4 linked regions of the Homo sapiens genome follow. The protein of the gene in region 2 interacts with the protein of the main gene of each other region in a pairwise test. Each region holds a gene or a part of one and is shown on either strand. Other genes may lie near its edges.

Evidence for each region. The genes of interacting proteins can lie anywhere in the genome.
Region 1: the proteins of RNF216 (region 2) and UBASH3A interact in binary tests that used the Homo sapiens proteins (3 or more experiments, as listed by UniProt).
Region 3: the proteins of RNF216 (region 2) and FLNB interact in a two-hybrid assay, tested with the Homo sapiens proteins (one study listed by BioGRID).
Region 4: the proteins of RNF216 (region 2) and UBE2L6 interact in binary tests that used the Homo sapiens proteins (3 or more experiments, as listed by UniProt).

What each region holds. Positions count from the first base shown.
Region 1 is NC_000021.9:42,417,238-42,421,098, reverse strand, and holds part of UBASH3A (ubiquitin-associated and SH3 domain-containing protein A), read right to left. Parts: intron 2,699-3,861; coding exon 2,490-2,698; intron 1-2,489. UniProt on the Homo sapiens protein: Interferes with CBL-mediated down-regulation and degradation of receptor-type tyrosine kinases. Promotes accumulation of activated target receptors, such as T-cell receptors, EGFR and PDGFRB, on the cell surface.
Region 2 is NC_000007.14:5,708,423-5,712,283, forward strand, and holds part of RNF216 (E3 ubiquitin-protein ligase RNF216), read right to left. Parts: intron 3,489-3,861; exon of another isoform or gene 3,418-3,488; coding exon 3,339-3,417; intron 1-3,338.
Region 3 is NC_000003.12:58,123,258-58,127,118, reverse strand, and holds part of FLNB (filamin-B), read right to left. Parts: coding exon 3,429-3,861; intron 2,788-3,428; coding exon 2,614-2,787; intron 1,539-2,613; coding exon 1,376-1,538; intron 518-1,375; coding exon 357-517; intron 1-356. UniProt on the Homo sapiens protein: Connects cell membrane constituents to the actin cytoskeleton. May promote orthogonal branching of actin filaments and links actin filaments to membrane glycoproteins. Anchors various transmembrane proteins to the actin cytoskeleton.
Region 4 is NC_000011.10:57,557,476-57,561,336, forward strand, and holds part of UBE2L6 (ubiquitin/ISG15-conjugating enzyme E2 L6), read right to left. Parts: intron 2,958-3,861; coding exon 2,862-2,957; intron 1-2,861. UniProt on the Homo sapiens protein: Catalyzes the covalent attachment of ubiquitin or ISG15 to other proteins. Functions in the E6/E6-AP-induced ubiquitination of p53/TP53. Promotes ubiquitination and subsequent proteasomal degradation of FLT3.

The DNA.
Region 1 (3,861 bases), on a different chromosome or scaffold from region 2:
CCACCTTAACACTTTGCAATGGCTTTATGGTGTGGCAACTTGGCCAGACTGAACGACAGTTCCTAGACTTCCTTTTTAGCACATGTCTGATCAGGGTGGGCTACAAGAGGCATTCTCATGAGAGCTGGAGGATGGAAGGGAGGCAGTAGCCATCCTAAGCATCACACACAGCCTTCCTAGCTATCCCATCAAATGCTAGTCTAGGTGCTGCTGGAAGGAGATTTTACAAATGTGACTAGAACCCCTAATCAGTTGAGCTTAAATTAATCAAAAGCAAGGTTATTCTGAGCAGGTCTGACTTATGCAGTTGGAAGGCATTTTTTTTTAAAAACTTAGGCTTTCCTCACACTCAGAGACTTCAATAGCAGCTGTGTCTGTGACTGCTCTCCCATCACCCGGGTGGTCCTTCCAACTGCCACATGTGGACAACAAGCTTCAGCTTGCCCATGGGTTTTCAGCCTAAGTAGGCTCCTCCCTTCCTGCCTGTCTGCCCTTGCTTAGCTAGCCCCAGTAATTCCATAAGGCAATTCATTGTAGTAAATCAATATAGATGTGTGTATACATATATACCTTTCCATATATATATGTGTGTGATACATGTGTATATAATATAAAATACTATGTATGTATAGTCAGCCCTTTGTATCTGGAGGTTCTGCATTTGTGGATTCAACCAACTGCAGGCCAAAAATATTCAAAAGATTAATCAATTAAAAAATAGCAATACAATTTAAAAAATACAAATAAAAAACAATACCGTATAACAACTATTTGCATAGTATTTATACTGTATTACATATCACAAGTAATCTAGAGATGATTTAAAGGATACAGGGTGATGTGCATAAGTTGCATGTAAATACTACAGCATTTTATATCGGGGACTCGAGAACATGAGGATTTGGGTATCTGTGGGGGTCCGGGAACCAATCCCTTGCAGATAGCAAGGGACAACTGTACATATACTTATATGTATTATATATTGTATGAAAGTGACTGGTTCTGCATCTCTGGTTAAACTTTTACTAAATTTGGTATCAGGAATGGGGTGCTACTCTAACAAACAGTGGATGTTCTTCAACTTCAGATGGGGTTATGTTCCAACAAACCCATCATAAATTGAAAATGCATTTAATGCACCTAACCTACTGAACATCACAGCTTGGCCTAGCTTACCTTAAACACGCTCAGAACACTTACAGTAGCCTATGATAGGGCGGAATAATCTAACACAAAGCCGATTTTATAATCAAGTGTTGAGTATCTCATGTAATTCGTTGAATGTTGTACTGAAAATGTAGCACAGAATGATTGTATGGGCACTTGAAGTACAGTTTCTATTGAACCCATATCACTTTCGTAACATTATGAAATCCTAAGCCAAACCATTGTAAGTTGGAAACCTTCTGAACTTAAAATGTGGAAACAACTTTGGGACTTGGCAGCGAGTAGAGGCTAAGAGACTTTTGAGTAGCACAGCAGAGAAAGCCCAAATCACCATGAACAGACTGCTAGAGGAAATAGGGATGCTAAAGGTGAATCCTCCGGGGAGAACTCAGAAAGGAATGTGACAGGTGTTCCAGGAAATCGGAGCAAGGAGGATCCTTCCCATGTGTGCCAGAGAGTTTAATGAAATTGTCCATGGAGAGCAGGACTTGTAAGCGATGATGTTGGTCACATAGCTAAGGCTATTTCCAAACAAAGTGTTAAGTGTATCACCTGGTTTCTTCATGTTATTTATAGTGAAGCGGGAGAGGAAAGAGATAAATTGAGGGAAGAACATCGAACAAAAAAGAACCAGTATCTGATGATTCTGAAAATCCTTAGCCTCACCAGATGATGCTAAAAGGTGCTAAAATTAAGAGATTCTTCAGCTGATGAAGAAGCAACTCACCAGGAGCCCTACAGCTTCAAGGAAATCACTCCCACCAACAACTGTGTATGCTCAGGCGAGGGTGTGAAGCCTCAGTGGGGAGCCCAGCCCTGGCAGGCACCTTGATTACAGCCTTGAGACCCCGAGCTGAGGACCCAGTGAAGCTGGACTCTGACTCTCAACCCATAAATACCATAAGATAATAATTGCACTTTGTTTTAGTGGTAATTTATTATACAGTCATAGAAAACTAATAATACGACCTAGGACTTTACATTTCATACACGGAGCAGAAGAATAAATAAACCCAAGCTCAGGACCTCTGAGTATAATTTATTATGTGTGTGATAAAGAAGTAGTATTTTGCAGTAATTTGGGGATTACCATCTCAAATTACTCTAATGCAGAGTAATTCATTCTTTTTTGAATGTTATCATCAGAAAACCAGGGACGAACCAAGATGTTTACTATATACCTGCAGGAATAATTTTGTCAGCATACAGAATGCAATTTTACCAATAATGGAATGGTCTAGAAGCACACTGTTGGCAGGTGGGCACTCTCACACAGTAACTCAGAGAGAGATGACGGGGCTGCAGCCAGAGGCAGCACTCACCTGTGCTTCACCCACGTGTCAGACTCACTGGCTCGATCCGTGTAGTTTTCCGGCAGGAAGCCCCGGCAGCCCGTCCGCTGTGAGATCCCAATCACCCAGCCCTCGCTGGCTTCGTCCTGCTGCGTGGGGTCCACAAAGATGTAGTCACCAGGACTTAGCGTCAGCTCATCCACGTTCTGGGGTTTGTACTGGAATAGGGCTCTCAGGGTCTAGAAAAGAGGCAAAGGGGTTTCACGTCTCGAGCAAAGATTTACATTGGAAAATGGCAGCAATAGGAGGCCTATCACCTGCCACCTCCTGCTTTCTGCCCCTCCAATGTGTTCTGTGTCTCCAAGACTCCATCCAAAGCTTTGTCTGGCAATATATAGCACAGAATGTAATGAAACGCAGCATAGAATTCTTTGGATAGATTTAGAAATACATTTTGGGGCCAGGCGCGGTGGCTCACGCCTGTAATCCCAGCACTTTGGAAGGCCGAGGTGGGTGGATCACAAGGTCAGGAGTTTGAGACCAGCCTGGCCAATATGGTGAAACCCCGTCTCTACTGAAAATACAAAAATTAGCTGGACATGGTGGCGGGTGCCTGTAGTCCCAGCTACTTGGGAAGCTTGAGGCAGGAGAATCACTTGAACCTGGGAGGCGAAGGTTGAAGTGGGCGCAGATCACTCCACTGCATTCTACCCTGGGTGACAGGGTGAGACTCCCTCTCAAAAAAAAAAAAAAAAAAAAAAGAAAAAAAGAAAAAAAAAAGAGATACATTTTGGGATCTATCCATCATCCATCCATCTAGGTACTTTTTTGTCTACAAAAGATCTGAAGGCATAAGCAGACTTTCACATCCGCCTTCCTCGGTGTGAGGTTATTGACACCTCATACGATACAGAACATGGTGGATTCATTCACACGTGCTCTCTGGGTCTGAAAGGAGCATCACACACTTCGTTTCTAAACCCATCGATTCATGGGCAGGAAGTCCCAGAATGAGGTTTCACTCAAATCATTCTTTAAAGTGAATTGTGCTCACTTTGGCAGCACATATAACTAAAATTGGAATGCTGCAGAGAAGATTAGCATGGCCCCTACATTTAAAAAATAAATAAATAAAAAAGAATTAATAAGCAAAACATGTATTCATAGATCTTTACAATAGTCCTTTCCTTTCTGTCTTTTTTTTTTTTTTTTTTTTTTTTGCCAGTCTCGCTCTGTTGCCCAGGCTGGAGTGCAACGGTACGATCTCTGCTCACTGCAACCTCCACCTCCCAGGTTCAAGTGATTCTTCTGCCTCAGCCTCCCGAGTAGCTGGGATTACAGGTTCGTGCCATCACGCCCGGCTAATTTTCTGTATTTTTAGTAGAGACAGCGTTTTGCCCTG
Region 2 (3,861 bases):
GATGGTCTCCAACTTACAATGGTTTTACACTTTTTGACTTTACTGTGGTGTGAAAGTGATACACATTCAGTAGAAACTGTAATTCAAGTACCCATACAATCATTCTCTTTTTCACTTTCAGTACAGTACTCAATAAATTACATGAGATACTCATACTTTATTCTAAAATAGGCTTCCTGCAAGAAGATTTTGCTAAATCGTAGGCTAATATAAGTGCTCAGGCTTTTGTTTTCCTTTTTTCAGGAGCTTGCAAGCTCTTGCTTCTTCTGGTGCCTGTCTGAGGTATCACAGGCCCTCTGGAGCTGCTGTAAGCTGCCCAGCTCTTTTTTGGCCTCAGCAGCTCCAAGGCATCTAGAGTAGGTTGGGTTCTGCCAGCAGTGAGTTGGGTGAGACAGAAGCCAGTCCCTCAGGCAGCCCCTTGAGAAGCCCAAATGCTGAACACATGCTCTACTCTTCCCCTGGACCCAAAAAGCAGCCTTCGAGGTGCACTGGACTCTGCCTACTGTACCGTGGGTCCTCTGGCGCAGTACAAACCACCCAGCTTTCTCTTGTTCTCAGCAGCCCCCAGGGACCTAGACCATGCCAGGTCCCATCAGTGCTTCATCGAGTGAGACAGGAACGAGAGTCTTGGGCAGACTCCAGAAAACCTAGAATGCTGGACTCATGCTCCAACTCCTTCCCTCCCGAGAAGAGCAGGGAGAGGGCAATGAGGAGTCAGTACGTGCTAGTTTCACCATCCCATTTGTCCTCAGAGGTCCCCAACCTGGTGCCCTTTCCTGTGAGACAAGACAGAAACCAGTCCCTTGAGCAGCCTCCTGAAAGGTCTGAATATTAGATATATGTTCCAGTCTTCTTTTTCCTCCCCAGAAAGATGCCAGGAGTTGGGAGCTTCCTCCCAATCACATGGTGCTGTGCCAGGGGGAGGAACTCTGGAGAGCCAGCGTCACAAATTCCCCAGCCTTTGATGCAACTGGTTTCTGGATTTCTCACAGAGAGAAATGGTCCTTCCGTTGTTGTTGAACTGTTCTCTCTATGGGAAAAAGAGGGTCTGGAGCTTTCTCTTCTGTCATCTTGACACTACCCCACACCACATGCCTTTACGGCTTTTTCTGCAAGTGATCTAACTACTCACATGTTTCACTGACCACAAGAAGCTACATGGCTACCTTCAAGTTCAGCAGGCCATGTATATTCCTCCCATAGACAAACAAAAACATATGTGGTGTTCCTATTTGGGATCTTAAGAGCCCCTGGGAAGCTCCCACCAACATGCCAAGTTGATACTCACTAGATGCTGTTCCAGACTCATGTGTGCCCTCAGGCTTTTATTTTTTAAATTTTTTTCTTTTAAAGACAGAGTCTTAGTCTGTTGTCCAGGCTAGAGTGCAGTGGCGCAATCATGGCTCAGTGCAGCCTCAATCTCCTGGGCTCAACTGATTGTCCTGCCTCAGTCTCTTAAGTAGCTAGGACTATGGGCACACACCACCATGCCTAGCTGAGTTTTAAAATTTTTTTTGTAGAGATAGGGTCTATGTTGCTCAGGCTGGTCTCGGACTCCTAGTCTCAAGAGATCCTCCTGCCTCAGCCTCTCAAAGTGCTGGGATTACAGGCATGAGCCACTGGGCAACCAATGCAGCTGCTTTTAAATGTCTTCAGGCTGGGGGTGGTGGCTTACACCTGTAATACCAGCACTTTGGAAGGCTGAGGTGGGCGGATCACTGGAGGCCAGGAGTTCAGGACCAGCCTGGCCAACATGGTGAAACCTCATCTCTACTAAAAATATAAAAATCAGTCAGGCGTGGTGGCGCATACCTGTGATCCCAGCTACTTGGGAGGCTGAGGCAGGAGAACTGCTTGAAGCCAGGAGGCGGAGGTTGCAGTGAGCTGAGATCGTGCCACTGCACTCCAGCCTGGGCAACAGAGTGAGACCCTGCCTCAAAACTTAAAAACAAAAACAAAAACAAAAAACGTCCTCAGAGAATAATGGTCTCTCCTCTTCTTTGGCCTTCCCAATTGTACATAAGCACTTTCACTGGCAGACCTTCTTTGAAACCTTACCAGGAAATGTAGTTCCCAGCTCCTTCTAAGCAACTCATGAAGACCCAAGAGGCTGTGCAGTGCTGTACATTTCTCACCTGGACTACTCAATAGGCAAGTAGACTTTCCTTATATTTTATCTCTCCCCACCTCAGGACAGTGTGCTGCATGGGCCTGCCCCTACTCAGCTTATGAGCCTCCTTCACACTCCTAGCACCAGTAAGCGTCCACATTGCTGCCACTCCCGGGGCCTAGAACATTTCTCCATCTCCACTCCACTCCCACCCTTTCCATCCTTTGGCTACTTCCTCCTTATCTGCTGCATCTTAGCGTAGGCATCACCTCCCCAGGCAGTCCAACACCTGACCCACTGGAAGCACACAAGGGACACGCTAGCACTCTGCTTTCTTAAGAGCTGCAAGATGCCAGCGACTGTTGTGACAATTGTTATAGCAACAGCCTGGGGTGCGAACATATAAAATGGCCAGAAATATTAATGCTGAAAACAAAAGAAATAAAGTTTTGATCCATTAGTTTAGTTTATTCTTCCTTTTCTAATCTCTACCTTAATTTCTTTACTCTCCCCAAGGCAAAGATATTGCAGTGTTCAACTCTAATCATGCAATTTTAGAAAAATGGCTTAGAGCGTATTTGTCTAGGTGGATGCTAATATTCACTAAAAACTCTAAGTGGCTTCTAAATAGCTGAAAGATTTTAAGACATTCTTAGTTCACAGGGCGCCAAGTTAAAGGGAACAAAGATCTGCAACAGTAATGCACCTAGACAGCTCTGCTCCCACGTAATATAGTCAGTTCTCATGAGGAGAAACAGTCAAATAAATAACCTACCAGATGTGATGGAGATGCCACTAAGATGCCCAGTTCCTCAATCAAAGAAGCGTCGTTTGGACTTTGAAAATGGCAAAAGGTGTGTGTGTGGGGAGGGAGGGGTAGCAGGGGCTATTTGAGCACAGGTGGTGAAGAGAGCAAGCAAGAAAAATGTTGACACAGTGGAAGAAAAACTAAACACTTCCCACTTTACATTATAGTATCTGTCCTAAAGAAGATGATATAAAATAGGAATCCAGAGCTTTGTAACTGGAGTGGCAAGAGTGGCTGCCATCTCAGTAACCATGTCAACCGTTACTCACAAAGTACTCGTCCTCATTTGCTTATGAAAAGGAAAGCACTCAAATCCTTCTTATACATCAGCAGTCAGGTAAACAGCAGATATTTGGGCCATGAGGGCAGCCCATAATACCATAATTCAATATACATCTAGAAAAAAATGTGCCTCCCTACCTTTCGGCAGTGAGGATTAGGACAGCTGAACCTCTTCACATCACTGTCCAACAGAGCCGGAAAGCTACAGGACGGGCACCTAGAGTCAGAACAGCAGAACTGACATTACTTCAAACATTAAAGCCTGATCTGGTTCCAGCTCCATGTGGCTGTTCATATGAAGATGGAGTTTTGAGCTGGACATTCACATCCCCTTTATACTCCTTAGTTTTCCTTAAAAACACAGATTGAACCTCTTCTTTGTGCTGGCTCTTATCAGGAAACATAAGCACCACATGAGGTCCTGACTGAATATAAACCACTCAATAAACACGTCCCAACCTTAATGAGAACTCCTTGCATATACCGATTTCCCTCCAGCCCAGGGCACCATGATTGTATCTACGGGCCAGAAGATTTGGGGGTGCCAAGATATGTAGACAGAAGTTTGAGCTACAGTCTGGGCGCGGTGGCTCACGCCTGTAGTCCCAGCACTTTGGGAGGCTGAGGTGGGTGGATCATTTGAGGTCAGGAGTTGGAGACC
Region 3 (3,861 bases), on a different chromosome or scaffold from region 2:
ACTCCTGACCTGAAGCAATCTGCATGCCTTGGCCTCCCAAAGTTTGGGGATTACAGGTGTGAGCCACTGTGATTTTCAACTTTGTAAAGAACCAGCTTTCCCCTGAATCAAGAACTAGGTCCTCCAACACACGCACAACTGTTTCCAGTCAAAATTCTAAGCCGATGCTTTTTGCCATGTTACCGGTTCTACTGGGAGTTGAGATAATCTTGGAGATGTAGCCCTAAGAAAAACTCTCCTTTTGCAGCTATTACAAATATCAGATTGTTTTCCCCACTCAGAGAGATAACCAAAATCAAACCCATTTTCCTGCAAAATCAATTATTCTCTGGGGTCCTCTCTGAGGAATAGCTCACCGGGGATGTGGGCTCCTCCATATGTGATATTAACATCGTAATCCCCCGGTGCGAAAGGAATGTACTCAGCACTGCAGCTGCCATCCTTGTTGTCTCTGCAATTTATCTTCGACTCTGATGGTCCCTCAACAGTTATGCCAAGCCCACCAATTCCTGCGCCTCTGGAAAGAGTGGAAAAGAAAGTGAAATGTGCACCATTTATTTATGCTGGTCTGCTTATTGCCAAAATTCATGCAAATTCCCTTTATAAACTATTCCACGTAGCCACCCCAACTCAATTACTACACCTCTCACATAGGGAATTTCACATTAGTATAATGTAAGTAAAGACACTCTGACCCCTCATTTTCAATGCTTATGCTTCATTTATTTTTCTTTTTCCTGAGACAGAGTCTCACTCCATTGCCCAGGCTGGAGTGCAGTGGCGCGGTCTCGGCTCACTGCAACCTATGTCTCTTGGGTTCAAGCAATTCACATGCCTCAGCCTCCCAAGTAGTAGCTGGGATTACAGGCGTGTACTACCAAGCCCAGCTAATTTTTATATTTCTTGTAGGGATGGGGTTTTGCCATGTTGGCCAGGCTGGTCTCAAACTCCTGGCCTCAAGCAATTGTCCCGTCTCGGCCACCTGAAGTGCTGAGATTACAGGTGTGAGCCGCCACACCCAGCCTATTTTTCTTATCTAATTGCACTGGCTAGGACTGCAAGTACAACGCAGGCATATGCCTTGCAACCAACTTTAATAAAAATACTTACAAGGTTGGCTACAAATTTTTACATTATCAAGTTATAGAGCTTGATTGACTCCTGGTTTGCTAAATAGTTTCATGACCATTATCAAGTGCTTTGGTATGTTTTTTAGGTATGCTTGGTCTTTCTATGTAACATAAGTCTCTACAGAAGGAAATACATGTTATAAAAATAAAAATTCATCTTATCAAAAGTTAGGAAACCATGACACATAGGTAGAATCTAGCCACAAAAGTGAGACTCAAGACACCAAATGTAGGGCCTTGCCTACCTGGTAACCACGGTGAAGACATTGGGCTTGTTGGTAAAGGCCTCTTTCAATCCAGGTCCTTGGGCTTGCACCCTAGATGGCTGGCAGCCTTCAGTGACAGCCACCTTGAAGGGACTGTTTGGGATAGGCACGTCATCATATGTCACCTCCACTACATGGAGACCTGCTCAAAACAACAAACAGAAACGCATATTTGCATACAAATCCCCTATTTGTGAAAAATGATTCTCTACTTCAGAGTTTCATCTAGCATCGAAGTCTGCATGCTATACTATGTTATTTGGAAAAGGGGGTTAAAAACACAGTAATGTGGCTGGGGGCAGTGGCTTACACCTATAATCCCAGCACTTTGGGAGGCCGAGGTGGGTAGATCACTTGAGTCCAGGAGTTCAAGACCAGCCTGGGCAACATGGCGAGACCCCATCTCTACAAAAAATACAAAAATTAGCTGAGTGTGGTGGTGCACACCTGCAGTTCCAGCTACTCAGGGGGCTGAGGCAGGAGGATCATTTGAGCCCAGGAGGTTGAGCCTGCAGTGAGCCGTGATCACACCACTGCACTCCAGCCTGGGCAACAGAGTGACATCCTGTTTCAAAACAAAACAAAACAATCCCACAGTAATGTAGGTATGATCTGACTTTTAAATAATACAAACCGTCTATCTGCAGTCACATAAGCCACTCCACCCCAACCAAGCAAATATTCAAGTCAGTCATCCTAAACAGACTACTCTCATTCGGGAAAACACCATCCAGCCATTAACCAAAAGAAAAAGCGAAACCCGTGAAACAGAAGAAACAGGCATCCACAAGAAGACTGAAAATATCTATATCAGAATATCGCAGGCTTCCGATCTCCAGGTAGTGGAGATATACATGGCACTTTTTTTTCTTTATGGTTTTCTATTTATTGAAATTTTTTATAATTCCTAATACTCAAGAAGAAAGAAATTCATACGCAAAGAAAAATGGCACAAATGAGCAACATCATGACATTACCCCATAACTTGCTGAGGTGAGACTGAGGCTAAACCCAGCCCACCTATTACACAAGGCCAGCAAGCCAGGCACTGAGTGGGCAGGTGACTGCAGCGGACGCTGACTTCCACTCTGTCACTCTGCACGTGGCCCTGCTGAGACAGGCCTAGCACATGGGGCAGGCATCAGTACCAGCCACCAGGAGGCAATGACCAAGGGCAGCTCTGAACGAGGGTCCAGTCCGAGGACAGGGCGGCTCACCTTTCTCAAAGGGTGTGTATTCCACCTGGTAGGTCCCATCCGCATTGTCTGTGACAAAGCACTCGGTGGAGGCCCCTGAGGGGTTGGCAATGTGGGCCTTGATGTGGTCACCCCCAACCTGGGTCAGCGGCCGAGAGTCAACTGTAAAGTCGGTGGTAGCTTCCCGGAACACATCTGCAGAGCAAGCACATAGCTAACACTGCCACCAGTACCCCAGACCCAAAAGCAAACCCCAGAACCAAGGTTCTTGGCACTTCAGGACACATGAAGTCCAATTTCAGTAACTGGAAAACTGGTTTTTCTAACTCTCAAATCAAGAATATTAACCCCCTCCATCCCAAAGAAGGCCTTTCTAGAGTAGCCACGGCTAAGTGACAACACGACTGCTCACACCGGGCTCGAGGACAGGTTAAAGGTTGAAGACTAACCTGCTGTGTGGCATGCAGGTGTTAGACAACACTACATTTTAAACTTTTTTCCAATTAAATGCCAACATGTTGTATGTTGAGTTTCCAGAGAAAAATCAAGATTTCTGCCTTTGCCAAAAAACTAGAGATTCTGCTGACAATGCTAGGTCCTGTTCCCCATGGAGAAACAGAAAACAGGGGTTGAGTAGCACGGTCCCCAGAAATGCAATGTGCTTAACCTTCACCAGGGCCCCCCAACTACTCCCCGAGGCAGAGGGAACAGGTGAGCACCGCCTTATATGTCACCTGGCTCCTGCAGGTGGCTGAGTTTGCAGCTCCAAGTTTCAGGTAGCCCTTAAGTCCCAGCTTGTCTTTTTTTTTTTTTTTTTTTTTTTAAATGAAACCCACCTTTCCCTTCTATTCCTGGTCCAAAGACTTTGATCCTGCTGGTGTCCACGGCGGGCTCCACCTTGACCCGGGCGGGGAAGTGTGGCACGAGTTCGCCACCATACTTCATGGTCAACGTGTACATGCCGGCCGTCAGGGGCACGTAGGTCACCGCGTAGGTGCCATCTTTGTTGTTCTGAATACTGACTTCGGCTTTTGTTCCCGAGTCCGAGACAGCTTCCAGGCCCAGGGCCCCCGGTCCCGCTTCCGAGCAGTCGACGCTAAGGAGGCCAGCTTCACCCACCTTCCCGTGCTCGAGACCTGGCCCCGATGCCACGACTTTAGAGGGGTCAAAGGGCATTTCAATGTCAGCTTTGAAGGGAGACCCAGGTATGTGGACTTCTTCAAAGAGGATGTTGACGAAGTACTCCCCGGGTTTTGTGGGAAGGTAAGA
Region 4 (3,861 bases), on a different chromosome or scaffold from region 2:
CCTCTGCCTCCTAGGTTCAAGCGATTCTCCTGCCTCAGCCTCCCAACTAGTTGGGATTATAGGCATGCACCACCACACCCAGCTAATTTTGTATTTTTGGTAGAGACAGGGTTTCTCCATGTTGGTCAGGCTGGTCTTGAACTTCTGACCTCAGGTGATCCGCCCTCCTCGGCCTCCCAAAGACATGGGATTATAGACGTGAGCCACCATGCCCAGCGCCATGCTTCTTGTACAGCCTGCAGAAGCTTGAGCCAAATTAACCTCTTTTCTTTATATATTACTCAGCCTCGGGTATTCCTTTACAGCAACACTAATGGACTAAGACAGGGGTATCAGTGTGTCCTGCCTGAAGGGGCTTCTTTCTGGGCTTCGTAGGACTTAACAGAGGAAGGAGGTAGCAGAGTCATGGAGCTGAGAGCTCCGGGGACCTGTCCCAGCTCTGCCTCGGGCTTGCTGTATGACTGAGCTTTCTCTGAGGATCAGTTTCCTCGTCTGTAAAATGGAGAAGCTGGACCAGAGGATTCCATGCTGTATCTTACAGTCAGTTGAGAAAGTCCCACTACCTTCTAAGTTCTAGGTTAAATAAAGGATTTTGCTACTTTATTTTGTTTTGTTTTTTTGAGACAGAGTTTTGCTCTTGTCATCCAGGCTGGAGTGCGATGGCCCAATCTCAGCTCACTACAACCTCCAACTCCCGGGTTCAAGTGATTCTCGTGCCTCAGCCTCCTGAGTAGCTGGGATTATAGGTGCCCACAACCATGCCCAGCTAATTTTTGTATTTTTACTAGAGACAGGGTTTCACCATGTTGGCCAGGCTGGTCTCAAACTTCTGACCTCCAGTGATCCACCCACCTCAGCCTCTCAAAGTGCTGGGATTACAGGTGTAAGCCACCGTGCCCGGCCTGCTACTTTTTAAAAAATTTTGAAAACTATTCATTTTTCATGGAGTGGTTAAAAGAGAAGACCCTGGAGTCCGCTGAATTCCACTCCTGCCACCTTATTCTGAGTGACCCCAGACCAGTTACTTAACCTCCTTGGTTTCCATCTCTGCAATTTTAAGAGGAAGACAACCTTCCTCACTGGATGGTTGAGAGGATTCAATATGACCTCATATGTCGTGTGCTTAAAACAGCACTTGGTCCACAGGAAACTCTCAAGGAATGAGAATTTTACTATTAGCTTCGAAAGACTCATCGAGCTGAATCCTTCCATGACCAAGATGTGACAAGTGGGGCCACTTTGGTGAACACATAAACTGAGACTGAGCCTTTGAGGAGGAATTTGTGTGCTATTCCAAAAGACCTTTCCTGGTTCTCCTTCCTCTGCCAGTCAACCATCCCCTCCTTTATGGCCTCACCAGGCACCTTCAGGCCCCCTTAGCTGATGACTTACATCAAGCTTTGGTCCTCCAGCTCTGGGATTCCTCCCAAGTATCATGTTTCTTCAGGACTCCTATATGGCTGGAAGGTCTGTGGCCAGTTCCTGGGGCGCACTTAACCACCTTGGTCTTGCCAACTATTGAGGTCCTCTGATTTCATAGTACTCTGCCAAACGAGACCTTTCCTAGGTTTTCCTATCACCCCTGCTTTCATCATCTCAAAGTTGGTCTCCTTGGAGATATAATCAGTCCCTGGAGCTCCTTTGAGCATCTTCTCCCGGCACCTGAGGCCTAGAACAGGTGTCCTCACTCTAAGCCAGGTAAGTGGATCGTTTCAACACAGTAACCCAAGGGACTTGACAGAGGTTCCCATGTTGACCTGACTCAGGCCTTTCTCTACTTTTCTGGACTATAGGTCAGTTTAAAGAGAAGACGACACAACCTAGGCCACTGCATTGTCAATAAAAAGTAAATCCTGCCGGGTGTGGTGGCTCCACCTGTAATCCCAGCACTTTAGGAGGCCGAGGTGGGCAGATCACTTGAGGCCAGGAGTTTGAGACCAGCCTGGCCAACATAGCAAAATCCTGTCTCCACTAAAAACACAAAAATTAGCCAGGCATAGTGGCACGTGCCTGTAGTCACAGCTACTCAGGAGGCTGAGGCAGGAGAATCGCTTGAACCCCAGAGTGGAGGTTGCAGGAAACGAACATCGCATCACTGCACTCCAGCCTGGGTGACACAGTAAGACTCTGTCTCAAAAAAAAAAACAAGTCCAAATCCTAAATGATAAGATGAATTGTTCCTTTGATATTCCAAAGAGCTTTGACTAACAAAAAGTTCAATGTCTTAAATTTTATTTCCAAGTAATGAAAAGTGTAGATTAATTTCTCAAAGTATCTTTAGTCACTAATAATCGGATGAAAAAAAGAGAGATCTTGCACTCTGAAAACTATTTTGGAATACTGCTTTCAGAGAGACTTTATCAAGAAAATACCAAATAATAAACAGAGAAAAATAAGAACAGTAGAAATGAGCTATTTGTGTTTTCATATGTAACAATTTTCTGAAATAAGACTACAGAAAAACAAAATACAATTTAGGTTTGCGGGAGCAAATTCTCCCAACTGTGAGAGCCTGGAAGTTTATCCCTACCCCTTGACAAAGGTCCAAGAAATCTTTATTTCTTCTTCTTTTTGATGCTGTTTGTCTCCTGAAGTTCTGTGGTGGGCTTGGTGGCTACCGGTTTAAGGAAGGGGTCTCCTACTAAGTCAAAAGTCCTTTGGCATCTTTATCAGAAGGTGAACCTCAGAAGTATCTGGATCTCAGAAGCAATCAATTCAGAGAGAAGCCCCCTCCAGCAATGATAACCTCCAGTAAAAGGATCTCAAGCAGGGAAAATTCTTGCCTAGTCCTAACCCTCCCTGCCCATGTCCCTGGCCTAATTTGGCCCCAATCCAAAGCCATGGTCCCCATGGATACTCACGGGTAGGAGGAGAGCGTGCCACACCAGGACATTGGCATCATCGCTGGACAGGTTCCGCAGGTATGGGGGAGGCTTCTTCTGAAGATCCTCCAGCTCCTGCAGGGGACACAAGTGAGTGGGCAGTTGGCCTAGTCCTCCTTATTTCAGCCCCCTCCCCCTGCCCCAGCAGCAAGCTGCCCCAAGTTCAAAACTGGCCATCTTAGGGGCAGAAGCCGGTAAAGTCAGAGCCTACATTTACTGAGCACTTAGTATGTATCAGGCATGGTGCTGGTGCTTTTTCTTTTTTCTTTTTTTTTTTTTTTGAGACAGAGTCTCGCTCTGTTGCCCAGGCTGGAATGCAGTGGCGCAATCTCGGCTCCCTGCAAGCTCCGCCTCCTGGGTTCACGCCATTCTCCTGCCTCAGCCTCCCGAGTAGCTGGGACTACAGACGCCCGCCACCACGCCCCGCTAATTTTTTGTATTTTTAGTAGAGACGGGGTTTCACCGTGTTATCCAGGATGGTCTTGATCTCCTGACCTCGTGATCCGCCCGCCTCAGCCTCCCAAAGTGCTGGGATTACAGACGTGAGCTACCGCGCCCAGCCGGTGCTGGTGCTTTAAGTGAATTTTCTGACTGTGGCCTCACCACAACTCTGGTACACCTAGGTACTAGGTGCAGGGAAAAATAGATCACTTCTCCCAGATATTAAAACTTGGGAGTAAGTGCTCTTAGGAGGCTTTTCTCCTGAAAGCAGGGTACTTAACCTCTGCTCTCTAGCCTTCTTCCTAGAAAGTCACTAGGTTCTAATTCCCTTCCTCTCTTCCTTTCTTCCTTCCGTAAGCATCGACTGAGCATCTGCAGCAAAGACATGACCCCACCGCTTCAAACTCTGCCAGATCAGGGCTGGAGAAGGGAAATGACTCCGGAAGACCATAGCAGAGAAGAACTCTACACACCAAGTGGGGAAACAAGGGGGCAAGGAGTGACTCATCTTCCCAAAACTGTGGCCCAAACACCTGAA